Linked DNA regions of Homo sapiens: regions 2 and 3 are each linked to region 1. The links come from fine-mapping of genetic effects on gene expression. A gene starts in region 1. Each other region holds a variant in brackets. All regions are shown on one strand. Distances are from middle to middle.

Region 1 (8,252 bases):
GCCCACACTTAAATATTCTGGTAAAGGTGCATCCCTACTGAAAACCATAAATGGACACTTTGATTTGTAAATCTACTATTTGTAAGTTTATATGCATATATTAGTACTCTGGAGGCTAATCACACTGCTGAATTTATAAAATCAATTTCATAAATGTGCAAAAATAAAAAAACCCTTGATTACAGACAACCCCACCAAAGTACAAGTTGAGTTCCAGCTGAGCGGCAAGCCTTTCTCCACGATAACTCTTTAGCTATAAAACATAATTCTAGTTTAATTATATTAAATACTAAAGGATTTTTAATAAAGGAATCTAAGTATTTGTGGCTTTTTACTATAGATATTAACCTAAAAGGATCCCACAAATCTATAGGTCAACCTGTTTAAAAGGAGATGAATCACCTGGAGATTGGAGAAAGACAACTTGATAGAAAGACATGAGATGCAAACTTTGAAGACTGGCAGTTAATCTCTAGTTGCGTTGCTTTAAGACTGAAAACACAAAGTATGCACTGTCATAACCTTCTCGGTGGAAGGACAACAGAATCGCTTTTTAAAATGCTAAACAAAATCTGAAATATAATTTTAGTTGCTTTTGGCTTGTCTCAGATAATAAACAGGTTATATGAAAAGCCACTCAAGCCTAAATGGTATACAAAGGGATGGAGTGGGTATATATAAATCTACAACTAACAGTTCTGATAGTTTTAAAGTAATTAAAAAAAAATCTGTGTATAGTGGGTAAGCTTAAATTCAAATAACTTATTTTTAACATAAGAACAAGACATTCAACCTACTTTAATGGTAACTTTCACTGATACCATGACAAGGTGAGTGCATTCTTCTGTCCAATTGTTTACAGTAAATCCTCCAAGTTGCAATATAGCTTGATTTAAAGCAGTTTTCCCAGAGACATCTAAACAAGAAGAGCATGCAACCAAAGGCTCATACTCTATTCTGTAAATGAGAATAAGTTAAATAAAGTCATAGTATCAGAGTTGCAGAGATGGCAATTTTTAGTACTTTAAAACTTTAAGCTCACATCATATACTGTTATTGTAACTTTTATTTATTGTTACCCTTTGTAACCTATGAAATTATCAGTTCCTCATCATTAAGCTTTGTAACCTAGAAAATTATCAAATCCTAAGTCTTGAGTCCAAATGAAGAAAAAACAATGACCAAAAGTTAACATTATACCTTCACCAATGAGGAATCGAAGAAATGTAACTTCCCATGAAGTCCCTCAGGGCCCACTCAAACTCTCATCACCGTGATGTACAAAATGCACTCACCACCCATGGCACAGAGTCCAATACTGTGCTAAGCAGGAACTAAATTATACTGTTTTAAATTCATTAATCAGAAATATCATTTTCCTTTAGGATTTGGCTGAAACAAAGCTGTCCATTTTAAAATCAATTTTAAAATGTCTTACCTGAATTTACTTCCAAACACTCCAAAAGTAATACCATCCCCCGACTTCAAAGTTCGGGAAAAGCCATTCTGCATTTTTTCCTCATTAACAAAGGTACCATACTTAGAATTATCTTTTAATGTCAATACAGGGATTTCATCTGTTTGACTCTGAAAAGTTAGCAAATAATTTAAAGTCTTTTACCACTCAGTACATTCACTTCTCAGAGAAAAAGTTTTCAAAAGAAAAGACAATAGGCAGGTGGCTAACCTCCCAACACGGCAGACAACAATTACTGCTTCGGTTGCCTTGAGAGGAAGATCACTCAACTAACAATTCATATTTCCCCTTAGGGAAGTTTCTTAACCCAGGAATACCCCTCCTAGAACACACATGTTCTTTATTTGTGTAAGTCAGTGGGGATTCTCCTGACCCCTCACACACATTTGAGAATTTTTTGCTTTGGTGCAGTCTGTTTCATTTAAAACATGACAATTTCATTCCTAGATCTTTTTTTGTTTGTTTTACAGTATCAAAACCACATTGTAAAAATTAGTCCCATGAGAATACGAGGTTATAGGCTAGTGTTTCTGACTTACAGTAACAATTTTACTTTTTCTGTAGAAATTTCCAAAATGTTTTTCTATACCTAAAAGAACAGAAACAAAACCTAAATAAAACTGAAGAAATTCATATCGCATATATGCAATCTTTGATTAAAATAATGGCTCATCTTTCTTATTACCACCAGCGTTATCATGAGTACAGATATTCCTATGTATTTTTTTTAGCACTTTTATCACCCAAGGTTATGATCAAAACAAACTGAAAGCCATTTAAAGGAGCTGTGGGGCATAAGTAAGCATTTCCCTAATAAAACAAATCAATTCCCATTGCAAAAACTTGTATTATATGAGAAATGCCCGTTTCCACACAGCTACATAACCTCTTTAAGAGCCAGAGTCATGAAGGTCTGTTCATTGTTCTATTCGCAGGGTTGGCACAGTTACTGACACATAAAAACACATTACTGCTAATGGCAAAAACAGCAATTACTTTTGCACCAAACTAATAGTAAACAATAAATGTTTAGTAAGCAAATAAAAATAACTATGTCCTACTTCCTCTGAGTTTCTAACTAAAACAAAGAGTAAATTACTGAAATAGAAACTTCAAATCTCAAAATGAACAAATACCACTGGTACCACTGCCACAATATAAGTATTTAATTTTGTTAACATTAAAAAAGTCTACACAGCTCTATAAAATGACAAATCCTGTGAACTCTCTCTCACATACAAACCAAGAGAATATTTTGTGATTTCAACCCCCTTACTGGAAACTAGTGAAATAAAATTAGTAACATACCAGGTTGGTTACAGAAAAGTTAGCAGTTAACACAGCATGATTTCGGCTGATCGACTGATCATTTTCAATCAGAATGGCACAGTTTTTCCTTCCAACAACGTACTCAACGCCAGTCAAAAGTCTGTATGGTTCTCCTGAGATAAATTTTTTTTTAAAAAAAGATAAGTTGATAGACACATACACATGTACACGAACACACACATACATGTAAGTGTATATGATATAGGTATGACAAATATTAAATAAAACACCTTTGTTATTCAAATGTTAGTCAACTTTACATATGTCAAACTTGTGTTTTCAGTAAAGCCTCACTGAAGGCTATCAAAGGTTATCTAACTATGGTGTTTCAGGAGTAACAACAACAAAATTTAAAATACAATAAAAAAGAGAAAAAGAAAAAAAGGTTATCTAAACAGATAGAAGGCTACATCATTTTTCTAAAGGGAAAGCAATGCTGAAAGGAGTCAATGTTCCCTCAAATTAACTTAAAAACTTAATGTATTACCTAGCAACAATCACAATATTATGTTTGGAACTTGATAAACAAAAATATCAGGAAACTATAAAAAAAGATGCTCAAGCCTGTAATCCCAGCTACTTGGGAGGCTGAAGCAAGAGAACTGCTTGAACCCAGGGGATGGAGGTTGCAGTGAGCCGACACAGTGCCACTGCACTCCAGCCTCGGTGACAGAGTGAGACTCCGTCTCAAAAAAAAAAAAAAATCAAGAAAAATGTGAATAATATAATAGGAGCTTGCCCTACCAGATGGCAAAATATGCCATAAAACTAAAAGTATGGTACTGGACCATGAGTAAACAACACAGACCAATGCAACAAAGTCCAGACTAAGATGCACGTGTACATTTTTTGAAAATTTGTTTTTATCTTAAAGATAACATCTCCAATCAGTGGGAAAGGGTTATCAGTTTCTTTTAAAATTGCTGTAAATCATAAGTTGTTGGAGTAACAGTATATATATTGGAGACATGCGGAGTTGAGTCTGGGAGCATAATTTCATTACCCGAGTGGCAGGGAGATTAGGGCAGATAAAGAGTAGGGAGTCCAGAAGAGCCAGGTCTCCAGGGACGCCTTGACCTGTGAGTCTTCACAGTATAAAATTTATTTAGTTTGGCGCTCTCCATACTCTCTTACCCTGCCAGTCCATTTAGTCTCTACATAGATCTTTGCCAATCATCATGTAAACTTCCCGAGGACAAGACCCTTCACACCCACCACGGGCAACCAATTAACATGTGATCACATTTCACACCGCTGGAAATGAATGGGAAAAAATCGACTTTTCCCATTGTTCTGATGACATTGTGGAAAAGGAGTCTGAAACAAAACTGAAAGTAAGCCTTTTCGTGGTAGTCATTTCCCCAAACTGTCCAGTAGTTCTTCACAAGTCATGTGTGGCCCCCGTGTGGTCCGCCCATGCTAACTTCCTGCCGGGGGTTCCCACTAGGCGCCTGCTGCCGCTTACCCGCAGGCCATCCAGCCCTAGCGCTGCAACGGCGCGGGGGTGAGGCTGGGAGGGAGGGGGAGTCAGGGGAGGGGCGCGGAGGACTGCCACCAGGGGGCGCCGCAATCACCCCACCGCCCGCGCTGAATTCCAGCTCACAGCCGCCGTGCTGCCCGGGAAGAATATGCGCTTGCCATACAGCGTACTCGCCGCTTCTGCGACCGCTTCCGCAGCGTCCCCGGGCAGGAACGGACGCGACGCAGGAATCACCCGCAGGCCCTCCCCCGAGGCAGTCGCTACCGGGAAAATAGGCCCCGAGGCTTCCCTTCTGCCCTTACCTCCTGCCGGGCCCGCGGCGGGCAGCAGTTTCCACATCGGTCCGGCTCCTCAGGGCTGGGGCCGACGTGCAACCGCGTAACCGGGGCTGCTAGACGAGCGCGGATACGGCGCCTGCGGTCGGCATGGGCTCCGGGACGTGCGCGCTCCCGGGAGCCACGCAGGCTGCCTTGGATGAGGCGGGAGTGCGACTTGGGCGCTTGCCCGCCACCTGGTGGTTGGAAAAGGAACAGCACAATCTGTATTGAAATGTGCTGCGTTAAAAGGGTATGTTTCTAAGGTGTCGCTGAATGTAAGGTTACTACCTTTCCTGATTATGAACGAAAAGAATTTTAAAAACTAACTCCAAAGCAACATAAGGAAAATTTTTAATTAAATGCATTAAAATACTTACCAGTTATGTAGTTTCGTGCGTTTGCAGTTTCTTAAATTGCAGGTATTCCTTTGGAATCTAGTAATGGTGATAATAATGATGAAGATAAGGATTTCACCTCGAAGTAAACTCATTATTTTTACTCTTTTCTAAGTTCAAATCAACTTGTCTTAACGTCTTTATTTCATAATGCCACACTTTCAGCTAATCACATGCTAAATACTGGGCAGTCTCCTGTATTTAATACCCTTCCTTTCCACTTCCACCTGTCTCAAGCTGGTTCAAGCTCTCCTCCTAATTCCAGTAGCTTCCCAACCCATCACCACCCACGTCCCACATAATGTAGTCTACATCCTGCGCACTACTAAATAAACATCTGAGAGCACACTCCTGATCACATACATTTTGGCTTTCAAAAGCATTCTGTAATAGGGGGGAAAAGTCACTTTAAAAAGGCTTGTTTAGGCCCAGCACCATGGCTCGCTCCTTTAATCCCAGCAGTCTGGGAGGCCAAGATGGGAGGATCACTTGAGGCCAGGAGTTCAAGATCAGCATGGGCAACATGGCAAGACCCTGTCTTTATAAAAAATTTTAAAGTTAGCAGGGCTTGGTGCCATGCTCCTGTATTCCCAGCTACTCAGGAGGCTGAGGCAGAAGGATCACTTGAGCCCAGGAGTTCGATGCTGCAGTGAGCCATGATCATGCCACTGCACTCTAGCCTGGGCGATAGAGCAAGACCCTGTCTCAAAAAAAAAAAAAAAAAAAGGCTGGTTTACCAATCTCTTATCATCATAGATGCAAACTCCTAAGCACAATATTAGCAAATTGAATCAAGTAGTAGTATAAAAAGAATAATCATAACTAAGTGAGATTTATCCAGAAACAAAAGGGTGGGTTAACATTGGGGGAAAAAATAAATGTAATTCATCATAATAATTTTAAATAGGAGAAAAATCATGATTATCTTGATAGTAGCAAAGAAATTGATAAAATTAAGCACCCATTTAGGATAAAAACCTCTCTGCAAAGTAGGAATAGAGAAAACATCCATGATCTGATAAAGGACATTTACAAAAAAAACTACAGTTTACGTTATACTTAAGGTAAATTATTGAACATTTCCCCATGACATCAGTAATGAAACAAGGATGTACACGCTCTTACCACTTATTTTCAGCATGGCTTTAGATGCTCTAGCCAATGCAATAAAGGAGAAAGAGTAACAAAAGACATTCAGATTGGAAAGGAAGAAATAACAGTCATTATTCACAAATTACACGATTGCCTATATTGAAAATCAAAAAAACTGTTGGCAAACTATTTTAATTAATAAATGAATTTAATAAGGTTATAGATACAATATCTAGATACAAAATTTAATTGTATACCTTTATTCCAGAAAATAAATAGAAAATTACATGTTTAATTATAATGGCACCAAAATAATCGAGTGCTTGGTAATACATCGATCAAACTATGTAATACAAAACATGATTGACTACATAACATTATTGACAGAAAGTTTAAAAAGTCCTAAATAAATGCAAGGATAATGGATCATGTTCACAGATTGTTAAGATGTCATTTCCCCCAAAATTGTTCTATAGATTCAATGTAACTTCAGCAATCTCAAATGCTTTTTTTGAGTAGAAATGGATGAGCAGATTCTAACATTTATATGGAAATGCAAATGCCTAGAATAGCCAAGGCAATTTTGAAGAACAAAGCTGGAATATTTAAATTATGAAATACTAAGATCTATTATAAAGTTACAGTTATTAAGTCAGTGTTTGCTTGGTACAAGGATAGAAAACAGGCAAATGAGTCAGAATAGAGGGACCTAAAAAAAGTGGACACATAAGGTAATTTGATTTTTCGAAGGTGATTACAGGGCAACAAAGGAAAGTCTCATGTGACCCCACCCCACCCCACAAATAAATGATCCCGTTTATTAACGTGACACAAGAAATGTGTTAACATAACACAGGAAATGAAGACTGATCCCCCTAATTCATTTAGATGAATTAGAATTCATCTAAATTCCAGATGAATCATTATTTACATAGGAAAGTAAAATAATAAATATTAGTGGAAGAAAACATGATTTCAAAGTAGGCAGATCTTTCTTAAGTAGGACACACAAAAGTATGCCCTGCATCATAGAATCCCTAAATTTCACTGATTTAGTGAAGCATCAACATTTTGCAGGAATTTTCTTCCACATTCTGAAGTATACATATCTCACCAAGGCCTCCAACCTGTTTGCCAAATCCTTACTCATCCAATCTGGTGAGCATAATACCATCACTGTAGTAGAACAGTGGATGTTCTGCAGCATGTCCAGACACTTCAGGTCTCTTGGGAATACATTATGATAGAGGTTAAGGAGATACAGCTTAGCTCTGGGTCAACATTGCAAGTATTTTCTATTATTTTTTCTAATTAAATATGAGCACTTTTGGATTCTACTTTCTGTTAAGGTTGGGGAAGCACATGTCATCATATCAATCACCCCAAACCTGTTGCCTGAGGTCATGTTGTTCTGCTCTTGTAAAGATTTCACATCTGGTACAGCAGCTCTAATTGGGGTTATTACTTTGTTGATTGCAGTAGTCGGCTGTTTATTCTCCAGGAACTGTTAGGCTTTTGTAGGTCAAGTATGATGAATTAAATGGAGATAAAAAGGGAGCCAAAAAGAAAGCACTAATATCTATCATTCCCCTATATTGTTCTTGCTCACTGTCATGGCTGTACAATTTGAGGCTGCTCCCTGTTGGCCTTGCCCGCGTTGATAGTTCTTACCCTACAGGCCAAGGAGCTGAGGTGGGTATTGTAAGAACTACCAAGGATGTTCATTTCAATTATATATTTGGGAACTAGGAAAATGACCACCACGTAAGTCTATGTGTTCGGTGGACCCACTGTATGCCAGACCTGGACAAGGACTCCCTTAACTCTCTGGCTTCTGAATACCTCTGCTTTAACCAGGAGTCATAATATTTTGGGTTCATGGGTATCAATAATGATCATGTCCCACAGCCCTCCAAGTATTTGGGCATTCTCTTTTCCTCAGTGTATGATTTTCCAAGCGAATGGCTATAGGTCCCTTAAGGGAAAGACTGAGAGTAGGGTGGGGTGCGGGGAGGTCATTACCATATATTCTTGCTATGGGATTGCAGGGTCCTTCTTACTGGCAGTCCTGCCTCTCCACCAGTCAATGGGTTCTGGATTGGCAAAGTGGCTCAAATCAGGAAATTCGGAAAGAGACTGTGACTTTTTGTTGAGGCTGCTGC
Region 2 (8,283 bases), 23 kb after region 1:
CTTTTGATTTGATAGAATAGACAGCCATGGTGTTGTTTTTCAAAAAATATGGGCAGCAGTAGTTCCAAATAGGAATACAAAGAATTAGTATGGTGGTTCCCTCAAGTAAGGTATCTTTCTTTTAAAAAGTGAGATTTGTTCAGGGTTAGGGTTTTGCTGATTTTTTTTCTCTCCCTGTGAAAACTGGGTTATAGATCATTATAAAGGAAGCCCATATTTTCTGATACTTTTCAGAGACATTTCTCATTTGAAATCTACAACAGCTCTGTGATGTCTTCAGAGATTTCATTTTTTAACACACATCATTAGGATTGTAGCAATAAGGTCATACAGACCTTATCCAAGCTCTTCTGACACCATTAGACAATACAGTTTGAGAAGGAGAAAATGAACTCATTTAAAAATTAATTGTAATCTGACAATTTTGAAATTCCTTTGCTGAAGAAAAATATGGAAGTTTTGAGGTTCAGGGTTGGGAGGCAAGAGAGGTACCTGTTAGTGTGGTTTGTCCCCTTCCTAGCACATGTAGCCTCAAGTTTGAATTCCTGGGAGAAGAAAAGTCTTTACATCTGTGATGTGGGAGGTTGTTCCAGGGAACATCATGTTTTTGTGGGCAAATACAAGTTGTTATAATTAAAACCCCTAATTTGAATATTTTTGTTACCAAGAACCAAGGCAAATGTTTAATTTGTTATAAAACCTGTTTGTGAAGTGCTGTGTTAAATTGTGCTGCTGGCTAATAGGCCTCATTTCAATTTAATAAATATTTATTGAGGACTGGCTTTATGTCTGGCCCTGTGCTATGCCCTGGGACTCAAAATTTAAAAAATACGAGCCCTGCTCTCAACTGTTCTCAAGTTGCTCTCAGTTCTATTGAGGAAAACATTCAGTCATTCAGTTGTTTATGAGGAAACACTAATTAATTAAGTACCTATTAAGTATTGGGCATTCTTTGGCAATTTGTGGTTGAAAGACATTCCTGCCTTCAATGTACTATAGTCTCATATATGTATTTTAAGCCACAAATAATAACCAATGAGTAGGCCTTGAAATCAATTTAGTGGAGCAAAACAGCACTTTGGGAGGCTGAGGCGGGTGGATCATTAGATCAAGAGATCAAGACTATCCTGGCCAACATGGTGAAACCCTGTCTCTAGTAAAAATACAAAAATTACTGGGTGTGGTTTCACACGCCTGTAGTCCCAGCTACTTGGGAGGCTGAGGCAGGAGAATCGCTTTAACCTGGGAGGCAGAGGTTGCAGTGAGCTGAGGTCGCGCCACTGTAGTCCAACCTGGCGATAGAGTGAGTGAGACTCCATCTCAAAAACAAAAAAATGGAATAGAATAGGATATATCTAAATTCATCTCATGTAGTAAGGTTGTTCATTTTGTGAAACTTTAAAAAAAAAATTTACCATTCTTCCTTTTTTGATTCATTCTTTGATTACTATCATGCACACTGCCATGTTTCTTTTCCTTTTGTTTTTATCAAGAGTAATAACTATCCAACCTGATCAACATGGTGAAACCCTGTCTCTACTGAAAATATAAAAATTAGCCGGGCGTGGTGGCGCGTGCCTGTAATCCCAGCTACTCAGGAGGCTGAGGCAGGAGCTACTCAGGAGGCTGAGGCAGGAGAATCACTTGAACCTAGGAGGCAGAGGTTGCAGTGAGCCAAGATCACGCCATTGCACTCCAGCCTGGGCAACAAAGTGAGATTCTATCTCAAAAAGAAAAAAAAAAAAAAGAATAGTAACTATCAAGAGTAAAATCACTATTTTTAGAAAAATGATTCCTGGCCAATATTCAGCAATACAGTTAACAAAGTAAGATATGACCTCAAACTGGCCACCTAGAATTAACTTGGGTTAGCATTTGGTGTATATCATTCCAGGCATCTGTTCTGGTAAAAGGATGGATAGGCATAATTTTACTTGGATGTCACATTTTCCCTTAGTCAACATTGTTTCATTGTTTTCTCACGATGAATATTGTCTTGGAGCAGTATAAAACCAACTAGATGTGTTTTCTTTATTTTTTTTAAATCTGGAAGCCTAAGTATTTCTTTATTCAGTGTAAAATTCTGGAATATAAGCTCTATGCAGGCAAAGATTTTCAACTGTTTTGTCCACTGTTTATACCTAGAACAGTGCTTAGCATAGAGTAAACATGTAACAAATATCTGTTACATGAATGAACGTGTGTACTGTGTTGCTATGAACATGTGTATGTTGCTATATAAATCACATTTCTTGCTATGGTTCACAGTCAGAAAAATCTGAAAAATGATAGTCTAGTGAGTCACCAGCAGACATCAATAGACTGTGAAGATGCAGATGTGTATTATAATGCATATATGACCCAAACTGTACATACCTAGAGGAGGCAAGGAAAGCTTCATGGAGGAGGTGGCCCCAGGAGCCTGCTGTTAAATCAGGAGTTGGAATTTGTGTGGTCCCAATGGCAATATAGACCTAAGGAATAGCATGTATCAAGAAGTGAAAGAGTGGCTTATTTATAAAAATTCAAGTGGTTTGTTTGGTATTGTGGAGTTGGTGAAGTATGGGAACAGAGAGAAGCGTGTGGAGACGAGATCAGTCAGGTTGCTGGGGGACAGGGTATGGTGGGCTTTTCTTATTTATGTAGAAAATTGAGCATTTACTATTTGCTAGGCACCTTACTAGGGATATGAAGGTGAGAAGAAGAGCTGATTCCTGCTGTCAAGAAGCATAGAGTCCAATGGCATTATGGTATGATGTGCCGCATGTTAGGTTGGGTGTTCTTGCTTTTGGATGGGATCCCAAATAAATAGCATCCGTTTTTTCCAGTCTGAAAAATGAGTAAAGATGGAAGCCAAAGTATCACTTTTATTGTGGTTTGTGAGAGGAAGCTGGGCCTATCAGCTGGATCTCCCGAAGTAGGCGGACTTACATAACTCTGGAGGAGGGCAGAACATTGTCCTCTGAAGGCAGCTGGCTCCCAAAAGGAAGAAGACCAAGGAGAACTGTTCATACCCAACGATCCTGTCAAAATTTACCAGTCATATCAACTGTCTCTGCACAGACAGATTGTACCTCAGTCTGTGTTGCTATAAAGGAATACCTGAGGCTGGGTAATTTATAAAGAAAAGGGTTTGTTTGACTCATGATTCTGATGCCTGGACAAGTTCAAGACTGGGCATCTGCATCTGGTGACGGCCTAAGGCTGCTTGCACTTGTGGCAGAAGGTGAAGGGGAGCTGGAGTTTGCAGAGATGGAAGTGAGGGGGTGTTGGGAGGTGCCGGCAAGAGAGGAAGTGAGAGGGTGTTGGGAGGTGCCGGCAAGAGAGGAAGTGAGAGGGTGTTGGGAGGTGCCAGGTTCTTTCACA[A/G]CCTGCTTTAGTGGGAACTAATAGAGTGCAAACTCACTTGCCACTGCCAGGATGAAGATGGTACTACGACATTCATGATGGATCTGCCACCATAACCCAGGCACCTCCCATTAGACCCCACCTCCAACATTGGGGATCACATTTCAACATGAGTTTTCAAGGGACAAACATCCAAACATCCTTAGCAGGTTGACTAAGGGGACAGAAAGAAGCCTGGAGTTGTACTACCTGAACTTCTCACAGTAGGGAGATGTCAGGACTGGGGAAGAAGCATCTCCTGCTCATGGGGGAGGTATGTCCAGTTTTATGAGAGTGTTGTTGTTTGGTATATATCAAAGCTGAGACCTGAAAGATGAGTAGGAGTTAGCCAAAGGGAGAGATGTAAGAATGTTTTAAACAGGAGAGTAGTCTATGTGAAGGCCCAGCATAAAGGTTATCAACAGAGAGTGGGGAGGCAGGAGGTGAGAGACAGCTTAGTGAGCAGCCTGTTGGCTGCGTTAAAGAGTTAGAACTTTGTCCTGCAGGGTGGGAGTGGAGACAAATGGCTAAACCCTGAGTAATCCTCTCATCTGTTGAGAGGTGATGGTGGCCTCAACGAGGGCATGCATTGGGTTTGGAGACACTCAAAGTTGAGTGATATTTAGGAGGTAAAATCAGAGGCCTTGGTGATTGGTTGGTGGTGAGGATGAGAGATGGGGCTATGCTCAGTGGTGACATGTTGCCATCAAAATTGTGAGCAGAAATACGATATCATCAGGTAAGACTGGAAGTAGGGAGACCAAACATCCAAACACCAGTGATGAGGGTCTGAACTGAGGATAGCATTAGAGCTACTGGGGACTAAAACGAACTGGGCTTGGTTTGAATGTATGGGGTAAGATGAAGCCCAGATTTCTGTCTTTGGCCCCTGAGCTAAGGACAGTGCCACTCTCTTGAGTGAGGACATTAAGTGGGGGCTGGAGGGAGAAGAGGAGTAAGTGACATCAGTCCTGAAATGTCAGTAGGGTCTGGGACTCCTCAAGTGGTATATAGATAAATAAGCTACAGAAGTAGAGGAGAGAATGTTAATTCTCCCTGGGAGTGTTAGGGAAAGCACCAGAGCTCTCACAGCTGGGTTTCAATGATGAATGTTGGGTGATGATAGGGAGCAATTTGTGTAAAGACAGGAAAGTAGGAAAGAGTTCATGTTTGGGGAATCCTGAGTACTTTGTTTTCCTGAGTGTAAATTTCAGGGGAGATGAGGCAGAAGAGAGGGACAGGAGCTAGGTCGTGAAGACATATGCTATGGGGAGCGAAGGAATCTGGATATTCTGCAGCTACCAGGAGCCCTTAGAAGATCTTAAGAAGAGAAGTAACATGATCCCATTAGCAGTCCTCGGAAGATCAGTTAAAAGATGACACAGAATAGGCCCCCAATGTTTGTGAATGTTGTGAGATAGGGGTTTGAAATCAGGTGGTGGATATAGAGGGACACTGGGGAGGTAAAAGGCATGGGGCTTATAGACGGATGGGATGTATCAGGTGAAGAGGAGAGGGAGTCACCAAGGTGGGGCAGGGCAGGGCAGGTGGTGGGGGTGGGGTTAATGGATGAATCTTGGCCTTGTAGCTTAAGGATGCATTTGAAGAAATTTCAAACAAACTTCCTGCCCAAACTACAAAGCAAACTTTATATTATTACAAAAAATAATCTAGATCTCAGATATCTCCCAAAGGTCATGATAATGACATCAAAAGAGGGGGGAATTTTAAAGTTATCCAGAGTTTCTTACAGCCCATGGTAGAAAGCATGCAATAGATGTTTAGCAACTTTTAGTTTTTGCAGAAAATTCTAGGTAGAAAATGATCAGCATTCTCAGCTGTCCTGCGCTCTTCTCTTCCTAAGTTGATGAATCATTCTGAGATTGAAGTGCCAGGGTAATGATAAGTAAGTCTAGAATACAAGGTCAACTGCACTTTTATCCCTTCCAGTCTGGGAAACCCTCACACTGCATTGTAACATAAAAGCAGTGATAGAACTGTAGGCTTTCATAATTGCTGGAATGATGAAATGATGTTGCCATTTACCTTTAGCCCTAATTTATTCTTCATGCTTCAAAACCATATTTCCTACTGCAGCTTAGATATCTCTACCTGACTATTCCAGAAGCATCCCAAGTGCAGCATTTCTGATGCAGAACTCATTATCCTCAATGCTCCAACTTGGTCTTCTCATGTCAACCCAGTCATTTCAGTCAGAGCATCACTCTGCATGCAGCCACTTAAAACTAGAACTCAGTTACCTTCCACAGCTCTCACCTTACTTGCCAGGTCTGGCTGGTTGGGTTCTGGGTTCAGGCTAATTTACATGTTAAATGTGTGTGGAATATGTTGTCTTCTCTTAATTTCTACTGCCCTCGGTATCTCTCATGTACACTTAATGACTTCTGTCTGATGAGTCTCCATTTCCTTTTTTCTGGCTCACATTTAAATCTTAATTTTTCTAGAACACAAAGGCAGTGCAGATGTAACAGGGATATTGAGGTAAAGATGAGAGAGGTAGAAAAATCTCTCTCAGTTCTTTTCAGTAAACAGGAGACCTGTTTATATGCTGTTAATGAAACAGGCAAAAATGTGATGAAATAGATCAAGAACAAAAGTCCAAGCTCATGTTGTTGGGCAAGAGGCAAGAAGAAATCATGGATCTAGTGGATATCTTAAATATCCTGACTTGATCATTACACATTCTATGCATGGAATAAAATATCACATGTACCCCATAAATAGGTTAAAATGTTATGTATTAATAAAACATTAAGAAAAAGAAGAAATAATTGGACCAGGCGATATTAGGTACAGTGGTGACTCATTACGTCCTCATTTTTTGGGACCTTTGCTCTTGCAAGTAGTTTTATTTGCTAACTTCCCACCAGTTCACATGATAGCATCCTGGGCTAAGCATCACCATCTCTTGCCTGGCTTGTTATACAAGTGTCCTAATAGTTTCCCTGCTTCCAACCTTGCCCTCTACACTCCATGGCAGCCAGAACAATCCCCTTAAAACTTAAGGCAGATCATGTCCATTCTCTCCTTAAAACTTAGAAGATGTTTCCCACTTGCCTCAGAGTAAAAGCCTAAGTCTCCGTAGTGGCTGACTCAGCCTGCATGGTCCAGTCCCCTTTACCTCACTGACCTCTTCTCCTGCCCCTGTCTCCCTCCTTCCTTCTTCTCCAGCCACACTGGCTTCCTGACTGTTACCCCATCCATAAGCATGCCCCCTGCTTAGGGCCTTTGCTCCCAATCCCTTTTGCCTAAAACCCTGTGATTCATTCTTCTCCTTCACGTCTTTGCTCCAATGTCACCTTCTCAATGAGGCCTTTGCTGATGACTCTATTTAAAGTAGCAATGCTCTATCCCTATTCTCTGCCTTATTTTTTCCCCACACTACATATCAACTTTTAATATACTACATATTTAACTTAATTTCTTTATCCCTCATTCCCCCAAGGATAATCTTGCTGAGAATAGAATATTGTGTCTGTTTTTTTTTTTTACTGCCGTACTGCCATGCCTAGAACAGTGCCTGGGGCTTAATATATGCTCAATAAACACTTGCTTAAAATGAATAAATGAATAAACTCTATATCCATCATAATGTCATGTTTATCCCTAATACTTTTTTATGTAAGCAAATTCCCAAAACAAACTCTTTGCAAGAGCAGAGATTCTAATTTTTGGTTTAAAAAAGATTGTCATTATAGTTTTGGTTAACATGATAGGGGATCAATAAGAGATGACTCAAATCAGAGGCAGGCAGGAGTGAAGACCCTAGCTGAAAATTTCAAATTGCCTCTTAGGTCTGTGATTTCATCTCTTTTTATTTTGTTGTATTGGAGAAGCATCTGTTCAGTCTGCATCTAACTGCAGACAGATAACCACTGTAATAAAATGAGATGTACACCCTATGGCATAGAGCACCGACATTTTCAAGGACTCATGTTCACTGATACAAAATGTATCATTCCTCAAAAATGTAATTTCTGTCTTGCTCCTGGCAACTGCATAATTCAGCTTAGCCATTGGAGCTTGGAGTCCAGCTGGGCAGTTTCTTTTATATTTGTTTAGCCTTACCTTCAGGTTGCTGTGGCAACAAGATCTGTGCTCTGCGGAAGCTGAGAATATCAGTGGCCTCTGTTCAGTGCCCTGCTATAAGTTAAGGAGCAGGCAGATGTGCTTAAGCAATCTACACAGTCATGGAGCATGAGTTAACGAGGCCTGTGGCAAGCTTTTGGTGTGGTACTCAGTTATTTTAATGTCTGCAGGGCAACTGTTGGCATTTGGGGTGAGACAGTTCTTCATTCTGCAAGGCTGTCCTTTTCTGCACTGGAACATCCAGTAGAACATCCCACCAAACTATCCCTTGTATTACCAGATACCTCCAGCTAAGGACCACATACACTGTGCTGAAGTGGCAGTGGTGTGGCCATTGGAAAGAATGCACGCATGGCCTTCTAGCAATCGGACAAAATAAATTGGGAAGTAGTTATGGAAGGCTTCCTGTATTCAGGGAGTACATAAGGTGTTTTGGGAATGCAAAGATGTACACTTTTGAAACTCATCCTTTGAAAAATATGGTTGTCCAGTGTTTACCACGCTGATAGTTTAATATGGCAGTTAGGGCCCAGTCTGCAAAACTCTTATGTGAATTCCAGTTGGAGTAAATTTGATCTAAAAAATATTGATTCAACCTGAACCAACAGATACGTAGAAGCTCCAAGAAAATAGATGTGGAAATATTTCATTATCTTTATAAATATAGCTCACACTTTAGTGTTTAATATAGAGTAGTTATGCTTCAAGTAAGGTATATGTCCTTATCATGAAATTGATTCTAGGCCATTTTTTTTCTTGCTCTGTTTTCCTCTACGTACTTCTTGTATT
Region 3 (8,000 bases), 22 kb before region 1:
CATAAGAACCTAGATCCCTCACATGCACAGCTCACAATAGGGTTTGTGCTCCTATGAGAATCTAATGCTACCGCTGATCTGACAGGAGGTGGAGCTCAGGCGGTAATGCAAGCAATGGGAGCAGCTGCAAATAAAGATGAAGCTTTGCTAGCTTGCCCGCTGATCACCTACTGCTGTGTGGCCTGGTTCCTAACAGGTGATGGACTGATACCGTGGCTGAGAGATAAGGAACCCCTGGGCTATCTATACTATACAGTACGCTATACCATGTAGGTTTATGTCAACACACTGTTCGATGTTCACACAATGCCAAAATTGTGTAAGGAAGCATTTCTTGGAAAGTATCCTTGTCTTTAAGAGACTACGTATTGTCTCTTGACAATGACTACATATCGTCTATGGCCACTTTCATGCTACAGTGGCAGAGTGGAGGAGCTGGGACAGAGATCAACAGTCTTCAAAGCCGAAAATAACTACTCGCCGCTCCTTTACAGAAAACCTGCTGACCCTTGTCCTAAGATATCATTTTCCCTGGTATCCCATTCTTCCATGCTTTCTCTCTCAAGAGACAACCTGATAAAGGGCATTACTTCCTGAATATACTATTAATTTATTGATAGAATAATAACAATAGTACGGTAATGAAGAAGCTTTACCATGTATCTGCTTGCTCTGATTCTGTGTCAGCTACGTATGTTGTAGTGTTCACTGGGGCGCTTGGCATTAGTTTTTCATCAACTGACACGCCTTGTGAAAGGCTTGGTCCTGGAGTTGTTGTCTTTAATCCTGTAAATCACACAAGTAGAAAGAAAGAATCACAACTGCTAGATAGAAGATGAACATCTGGTCACTTAAAATTGTTAGACTATACCATGCTGAGGGGATTAACTAGGGAATACTGCACATGGTTTTCTCCAATGAGTGGTACCAACAAACACAAAACAGTCTATAAGCAGCCTGCGGGCATCTATGACGGGCTTATCTAAACCAAATCATTTTAAAGCCACATCAGATACTTTGTGCTGAAGTCTTATCAACTGAAAGAAAAATAAAATAAGCAAATTCTAATTCAAATTATGTTTTAAGTCAGTGGGCCAAAAAATTACATTTATTCCCCCACAGAAAGTGTATACACCCTACCATCTATAGAAATCAGAATTAGTGAGTTTTATTTTCATAAGGAATACATTATTTGAAACAAATCATGTAAAACCATCTTAGACATAAACTTCTGGCTACTCCAGAAAACCATAATGATTACCTCATCTTTTTACTTACCAGAAGAACAACTTAGTTCAAGTGCTGCTCTTCTGGAATACTTTTTTTGAATCTCCCACACTGAATTAAGTGCTCTCCAATTCTCCTTCCATACCACCACGCAAATCATTCTAATAACAATTCAAGCCAGGTGCAGTGGTTCACGCCTGTTATCCCAGCACTTTGGAAGGCTGAGGCAGGAGGATCACTTGAGCCCAGGAGTTTGAGCCCAGCCTGGGCAACACTGGGAGACCCCATCTCTACAAAAATTAAAAAAAACTTGCCAGGCATGGTGGCACACACCTGCAGTCCAAGCTACTCAGGAGGCTAAAGTGGGAGGATCACTTGAGCCCAGGAGGTCAAGGCTGCAGTGAGCAGTGATTGTGCCATGGCACTCCAGCCTAAGACCCTATCTCAAAAAACAACAACAAAAAAGCAATAAACAAAATTCACTTATGACTAGCTGAGTGACCTGTGTCAAGTTATTTAACTTCTCTATGCTTCCCTTTCCTCATCTATAAAATGAGAATAATTATAACATCTGCCTCACAAAGTTGTTTGGAGGGTAAAATAGCCCCTAGAAAAATGCTTGGAACATAGTAAGCACTGTGCCAGCATTAGCTGTTATCATTATCATCACTTGTTTACTTGCTACTTTCCCTTGTTAGACTGGTGTATCCTTGAGAATAAGGACTAAGTCTTGTGTATTTCTGTATCACCAGTACCTAGAGCAATATTTGGTATAGAGTAGATGTAAAAAAAGTTTACACTATTAACTGAAAAAAATTTTAAGTTGATATTTACTAAACACCTAAGCTAAATTATCATTCTGCTAGGTCCTTGTGACACAGGATGTGCTTAATATTTACTACTAATTCTAAATTCAGATATTTAAATGACTTCCGCCACTTTCTCTATGTGACCTCTAGAAGCTCACTGGCATTTCCTTTAAGACACATATCTCTAGAATTCATTTTCAGCTGCACATAAGTTTGGAAAGAGTAAAAATTATAAATGTTCATATCATCACTGAATAATTTAATGTAGGCTCGGTGAGGTGGCTCGCTGCTGCTCAGCACTTTGGGAGGATGAGGCAAGAGGACTGCTTGAGGCCAGGAGTTAAGAGACCAACCTGGTCAACATAGTGAGACTTCATCTCAACAAAAAAATTTAAAAATTAGCTGGGCATGGTGGTGCACACCTATAGTCCCAGCTACTCAGGAGGGTGAGGCAGGAGGATTGCTTGGGCCGAGGAGTTCAAGGCTGCGTGAGTTATGATCATGCCACTGTACTCCAGCCTGGGTGACAGAGCAAGACTTTATGAAATAATAATAATAATAATAAGCTAATGACCCAAAATAACTGGTGTTTGTTAACAGATTACTTACAATTTTCTCCTTGTTAAAAATACCATAAGGGCAGGAACTTGGTCTCATCTATTCACCTCTTTATTTCAAGTGCTTGCCATAATACAGGTATATAACAAATGTTCAATAAGTATTTGTTGAATAACAAAAGAGTGAATATAAAAACAAAGGAAGGAGGAGAGAAAAGGGAGACTCATTCACTCTGTTCCCCCAAAGTTGGTTGTGCTATAAAATTATTTTATTATCAGAGGACTATGACTTGGAACCCACCTAAACCTACCTACGAAAATATGCAAGAAGTAATACTACATACAGTGTACTTTTTAATTCACTCTCATGACTTTGTTTCTGTAGGAAATAATACATCAGAAAAAAGCACCAGTCTGGTAGTCAGAAAACCAAATTTTAGAACTGGCTTGGCCATGAAGTAGTTATGTACCTTAACTTTTCTCAGCCTTGGTATACCTTATCTTTTAATAGAACGATTAGATGATCTCTAAGGCCCTTTCAGCTATAAACACAATTTCAACAGTGGGTGACAATATTTTGTTGCTCCACACTGGAAAACATAATCTTGTGTACCAATAGCTTAGTTCAATTACGCAAAATATTTATACCTATTACAAACAAGTACCGTGCTTGCTGCTGTTAGGGGATCCCAAATTAGTAAGAGCCTACAATCTACTCAGTGGCTGAAAGAGGTGTGGAAACAACTGGTTATATCCAAAGTAGGAAGAAACTCCGGCTGGAATGCAAAAAAGCTACTGAGCATAGAAACAGAATAATTACATCTGACTTGGAGGAGTTGGGAGTGAAA[A/G]CAATTTAGAAGAGCCTTACGAAGGAGGTAATCATTTGTAGAATGAGTCAGATTTTGACGAGCAGTACTGAACATTCTAGGAATGGAACATGATGTTCAAGGTGAGGAAGTGTGGGAACTATAAAAAATATGGCACACATATTCTGTAGAGAAACTATGTAAAAAAGGCGAGGTCGGGAGGAGGAAGGCTGCAGCTAAACTACTGAGGACTCAGAAGTCTAGACAAAGGGCTTGGAGATTTATTCTGTGGATAATAAGAGCTAGTTAAAATTTTTGAGAAAAGAGAAGGTAATTGAATAGTGGCATAGTGAAATATTAACTGTAGAGATGAGTCTGGAGTAAGGACCATTACTAGGGCAATTACTAATACAACCAGCACTCCAGAGAGAAGGATGTAGAGGGTTCAAACAGGGTACTGGCTGTGAGAAGGGGACAGTCACAGACCTCTTGAGCAGAAGCTGTAGAGTGAGAATTTCAGGTCTTGGTGATAAAATGGAAAAGGAAGAATAAAAAATGTCCAAAGTTTCCAGTCTGAGTGCTTCTTCTTTTTATATAAAAGAAGACTCCTCTCTAGTTCATTTCTTCTCAAGACTATTCTAATTTAGTGGTTTCTAGAGTTTGTATAGGAAACAGGAGCTTAAAAATCAAACAAAACCAACCAAAAAACTCAGATGTCTAGGATGCATCCCAGAATGTTCTGAATCATGGACAATGTACGTTTGTATTCAGAATTGTTTCTGAAGCATATATCTAGTTGAGAATTGATTTTCTAAACAGAGAAACACAGGACAGTGACCCCAAATGGGTGCTGAGACAAGGGGAGCTACTGACTTAGACCTAATCACCGTTTTTATATGTTTGTTGTAATTAAAGTCTAAAATTACTGATACTGATCTTTTTTCTGTAAGAGAACAGAAATCTATCAACAAAATAATATCTACAGCACCTGCTAGTTCTAAAAGTTGAGCATATTTCTAGTAGACAAGGAAGCAGTAGTTTCTCCAAGAATATGGCTCTCTTTGGCATCCACATTTAAAAAGTTCCCTTGCCAAGAGCCTGAAGAGTTGGTCTTTAGCTTTTTACTTTATGGATGAATTCTGGGAATTTGGTGAAAATATTAATCATATCACGATTCCACCAAAATAAGTGATTTGGTTATATTTAAAACTTCACAAGAACTTACGACTGTGTGTATTTGAAGGTTACCTATGTACAGACACAAACATATGTAGTATACTCAATGGGACAGGGTAGAGATGTCAGCTGAATAAACATTCTTATCCAAATAATAAAATACTAGCCTGTCAAATTTTATCAGATGTCTATGCTTTTGCATCAGCTCCCAATCATCCCTACACCACCATTTCTCAAAACGTCACACATTAAAATATAAGCCATTTGTACTGCAATGTGATGTCGTAACAGCTTTAAGACTCAGCTTGAACCAATTACTTGCTATGTGACCTCCAGCTAATTTCCTCTCTGTCCGTCAGTTCCCTCATCTACGAAAAGTAGATGATGCTCTTCCCTCTATCTTATAAGGACTGTTTTGCAGATTAAAGTTTGATGATGGTAAAGTGCTTACTCTAGTCTCTGCACACTCCAGAGACAGCAGTTATTATTACTATGCATGGTTACTAACGATCTACATACCTAATAGCTTCCTGGTCATTAGGCCGTAATGGCTAACTCCTTCCAAAATTTAGCTTAGCACATTCCTTACTTGTTTAAACCAAGGTTGCAGAGCACTCAGGAGATACACGGACTGACTCCATAGTTGCCATTCAATGGACTACAGTGAATGATGCTCCCCGGAGTGTGCAATCTGGTAGTGCTGTTCTCTAACTTGTCTCTTTTAGCCCAAGTTCAATAGCTGCTGATGAAATAACTACACAACAAATCCAGGGAGCAAATAAATATATAAGGAATACAGAATGGATGCTCTGAGAGCTAGGCAAATTAGATAAAAGTTAGTAGAGAGAATAAATGTAAAAATCTCCAAGGTAAAAAAGCAAGAAGAAAAGAAATAAACCATTTTTACAACAACTTACTAAAAAATTTTTTTAAAAACTATGGAAATGTGTTTTAACTAATAAAGGGGAAACAGTGACTGTCTCTGAATACATTGGCTTTCATGATTAACACTGAGATTATTATAATGCACATTCTTCATCTCAGTAAATGGCACCACCATCCACCCAGTTACTTATGCTAGGAAACTAGGAGTTGTTTCTAACTGCTCCACCGGAAAGTCCCACCAGGTCTAGTTCTAAAATATATCCTGAACCTGTTCATTTTTCTGCATCTCTACTATTACCATGCTGGTCCAAGGCATCAGGCTCTTTCACATCCAGATTTCCACAATAGCATTCTATTCACATCTCCTCTTACACTGTCGACCCTTAGAATTCTCCACACAAACCTAAGAGTGATCTGTTCCTTCTACCTGGAATTATCCACCACCCAGATCCTCACACAGCTGCCTTTTCCCATCATTCAGGACACATGGCTCAAATGTCACCTCCTGAGACTTTCCTTGAATACCTATCTAAATAGCCTACTACCATCACTATTACATACATCACCTTGTTTTACCTGTCTTTATACTTGGCTTGATCTGAACTTACCATGTGTGTGTGTTTGGTTACTAAATCTTGATCTTCAGAACATAAAGTTTATAATAACAAGGATCTTTCTTATTTTATTTACCACTTCATAACAGTTTCTGCTACATGGCAGCCACAAATATTTATGGAATGAATAAATGAAAGTATAAATGGATGAATTTTAAAACATGGTGAATATGGTCACCCCTAGCAAGTATATGAGTAACGTATATTTAGCTTATCGATTTACATAATAAAGTTGCTAACGAATCAATAAAATAATGCTTCAATTACCTGTACTGGGATGGCCCTGAGGATCACAGTAATTCTTTGTAGTCATGAAAATCACCGCCAATCCAATTTCTGCTTCAGGAATAGGTCTAAGACCTTGCCTATTAGAATAAAATAGTTTAAGTATGATAATATATTAAAACTAGCAACTTTTATTCAGATAATGTCAAGATAAAGCAACCTCTTTTTTTTCCTCCCAAATAATTTTATGGTATAGACAGAATTTCAAATGCAGAGTACTATAATAGCTTACTCGCTGGGGCACTGTTACGTTGACAAGTCTACCATCTTTTAGTAACTCCATTAACTTCATCTGTAAAATAAGGGGCTAAAGAATATAGATCTTCCCAGTTCTAAAATTCTACAATTTTTGGAATAAAAAGAATACAGTACTACCCAAATTAAACAACAGAACAGGCTTTTATGGCCAGGCATGGTGGTTCATGCCTGTAATCCCAGCACTTTGGGAGGCTGAGGCGGGTGGATCACTTGAGGTCAGGAGTTTGAGACCAGCCTGGCCAACATGGTAAAACCTCATCTCTACTAAAAATACAAAAATTAGCTGGGTGTAGTGGTGCACGCTTGTAATCCTAGCTACTCAAAAGGCTGAGGCAAGAGAATCGCCTGAACTTATGAGGTGGAGGTTGCAGTAAGCTGAGATCGCGCCACTGCACTCCAGCCTGGATGACAAAGCGAGACTCCGTCTCAAAAAAAAAAAATTAAAAAAAATCACCACAGGCTTTTACAAACAAATCTACGGATACTATGAGCCTAAGATGAAACTTCAAAGAGAAGAAAAAAAGAAGAGAGAGAGGAAGGACGGAGAGAAGTAGACAGAACTATACCTAAGGTATATCTATACATGTGTTACAACTTTTAGTAAATCAAATCATTTTGCCAAATTTACAAGTATTAAGGTATCTTCACATTAAAGGAATCTTATGGTGAACCTATTTTTTGTTGTTCTGTAAGGTCAATGACTGATTTTATAAAAACAAAAATACACCATTTAATATCATATAAAAATTACACCTCAAATTTTAACAAACAACTACAAAATGTCTTCAATACTCATTGTAAAGATTTTTTTTTTTTTTTCTGAGACAGAGACTTGCTCTTTCACCCAGGCTGGAGAGCAGTGGTGCAACCATGGCTCACTGCAACCTCTGCCTCCCAGGTTCAGGCAATTCTTGTGCCCTGAGCTTCCCAAGTAGCTGGAACCACAGGCGCGCACCAACACACCCAGCTAATTTTTGTATTTTTAGTAGAGATGGGGTTTCACTACGCTGGCCAGGCTGGTATCGAACTCCTGGCCTCAAGTGATCCACCCTCCTCGGCCTCCCAAAGTGCTGGGATTACAGGCGTGAACCACCTTGCTCAGTCAAGATATTTTAAATGGTTAGTTCGTAAGGTCTTTTTGAAATGCTTAATGTGTCTTTTTGTGTGTACTGAGCTTACTTAAATAGGATTCAGTTATACGTGCAATTAAAGTATCAGACTAAAAAAATAAAATCTAAAAAACCTTTATAATCAAGTGATCACATATACCTACCTGTAATTTAGGTAATTCAAAACTGGTATTTTATTTACTAACTTTTGCAACTATAACTTATACTATGTGAATTAGTTATAAAGAATGGTTACATAAAATAGAAACATTTT

The links.
Region 2: its variant is fine-mapped to the expression of NBN in whole blood (TOPMed, PIP 0.94).
Region 3: its variant is fine-mapped to the expression of NBN in esophagus muscle (GTEx, PIP 0.97).

The regions. Positions count from the first base shown.
Region 1 is chr8:89,979,937-89,988,188 of GRCh38, forward strand. NBN (nibrin) reads right to left here and starts at 4,731. Exons shown (of 16, transcript NM_002485.5): 1 at 4,589-4,731; 2 at 2,786-2,919; 3 at 1,439-1,587; 4 at 798-957. The coding sequence starts at 4,625. RefSeq lists enhancers at 3,824-4,163, 4,295-5,091 and a silencer at 4,284-4,483.
Region 2 is chr8:90,002,620-90,010,902 of GRCh38, forward strand. The region is part of intron 1 of DECR1 (2,4-dienoyl-CoA reductase 1); the gene reads left to right. Among named protein-coding and RNA genes, the nearest start is that of DECR1, 5.3 kb to the left of the region's middle. RefSeq lists enhancers at 2,997-3,306, 3,467-3,526. The variant A/G (reference allele first, on the strand shown) is at 3,367.
Region 3 is chr8:89,958,069-89,966,068 of GRCh38, forward strand. It overlaps NBN (nibrin), which reads right to left. Exons shown (of 16, transcript NM_002485.5): 8 at 6,342-6,439; 9 at 657-786. Among named protein-coding and RNA genes, the nearest start is that of NBN, 23 kb to the right of the region's middle. The variant A/G (reference allele first, on the strand shown) is at 3,442.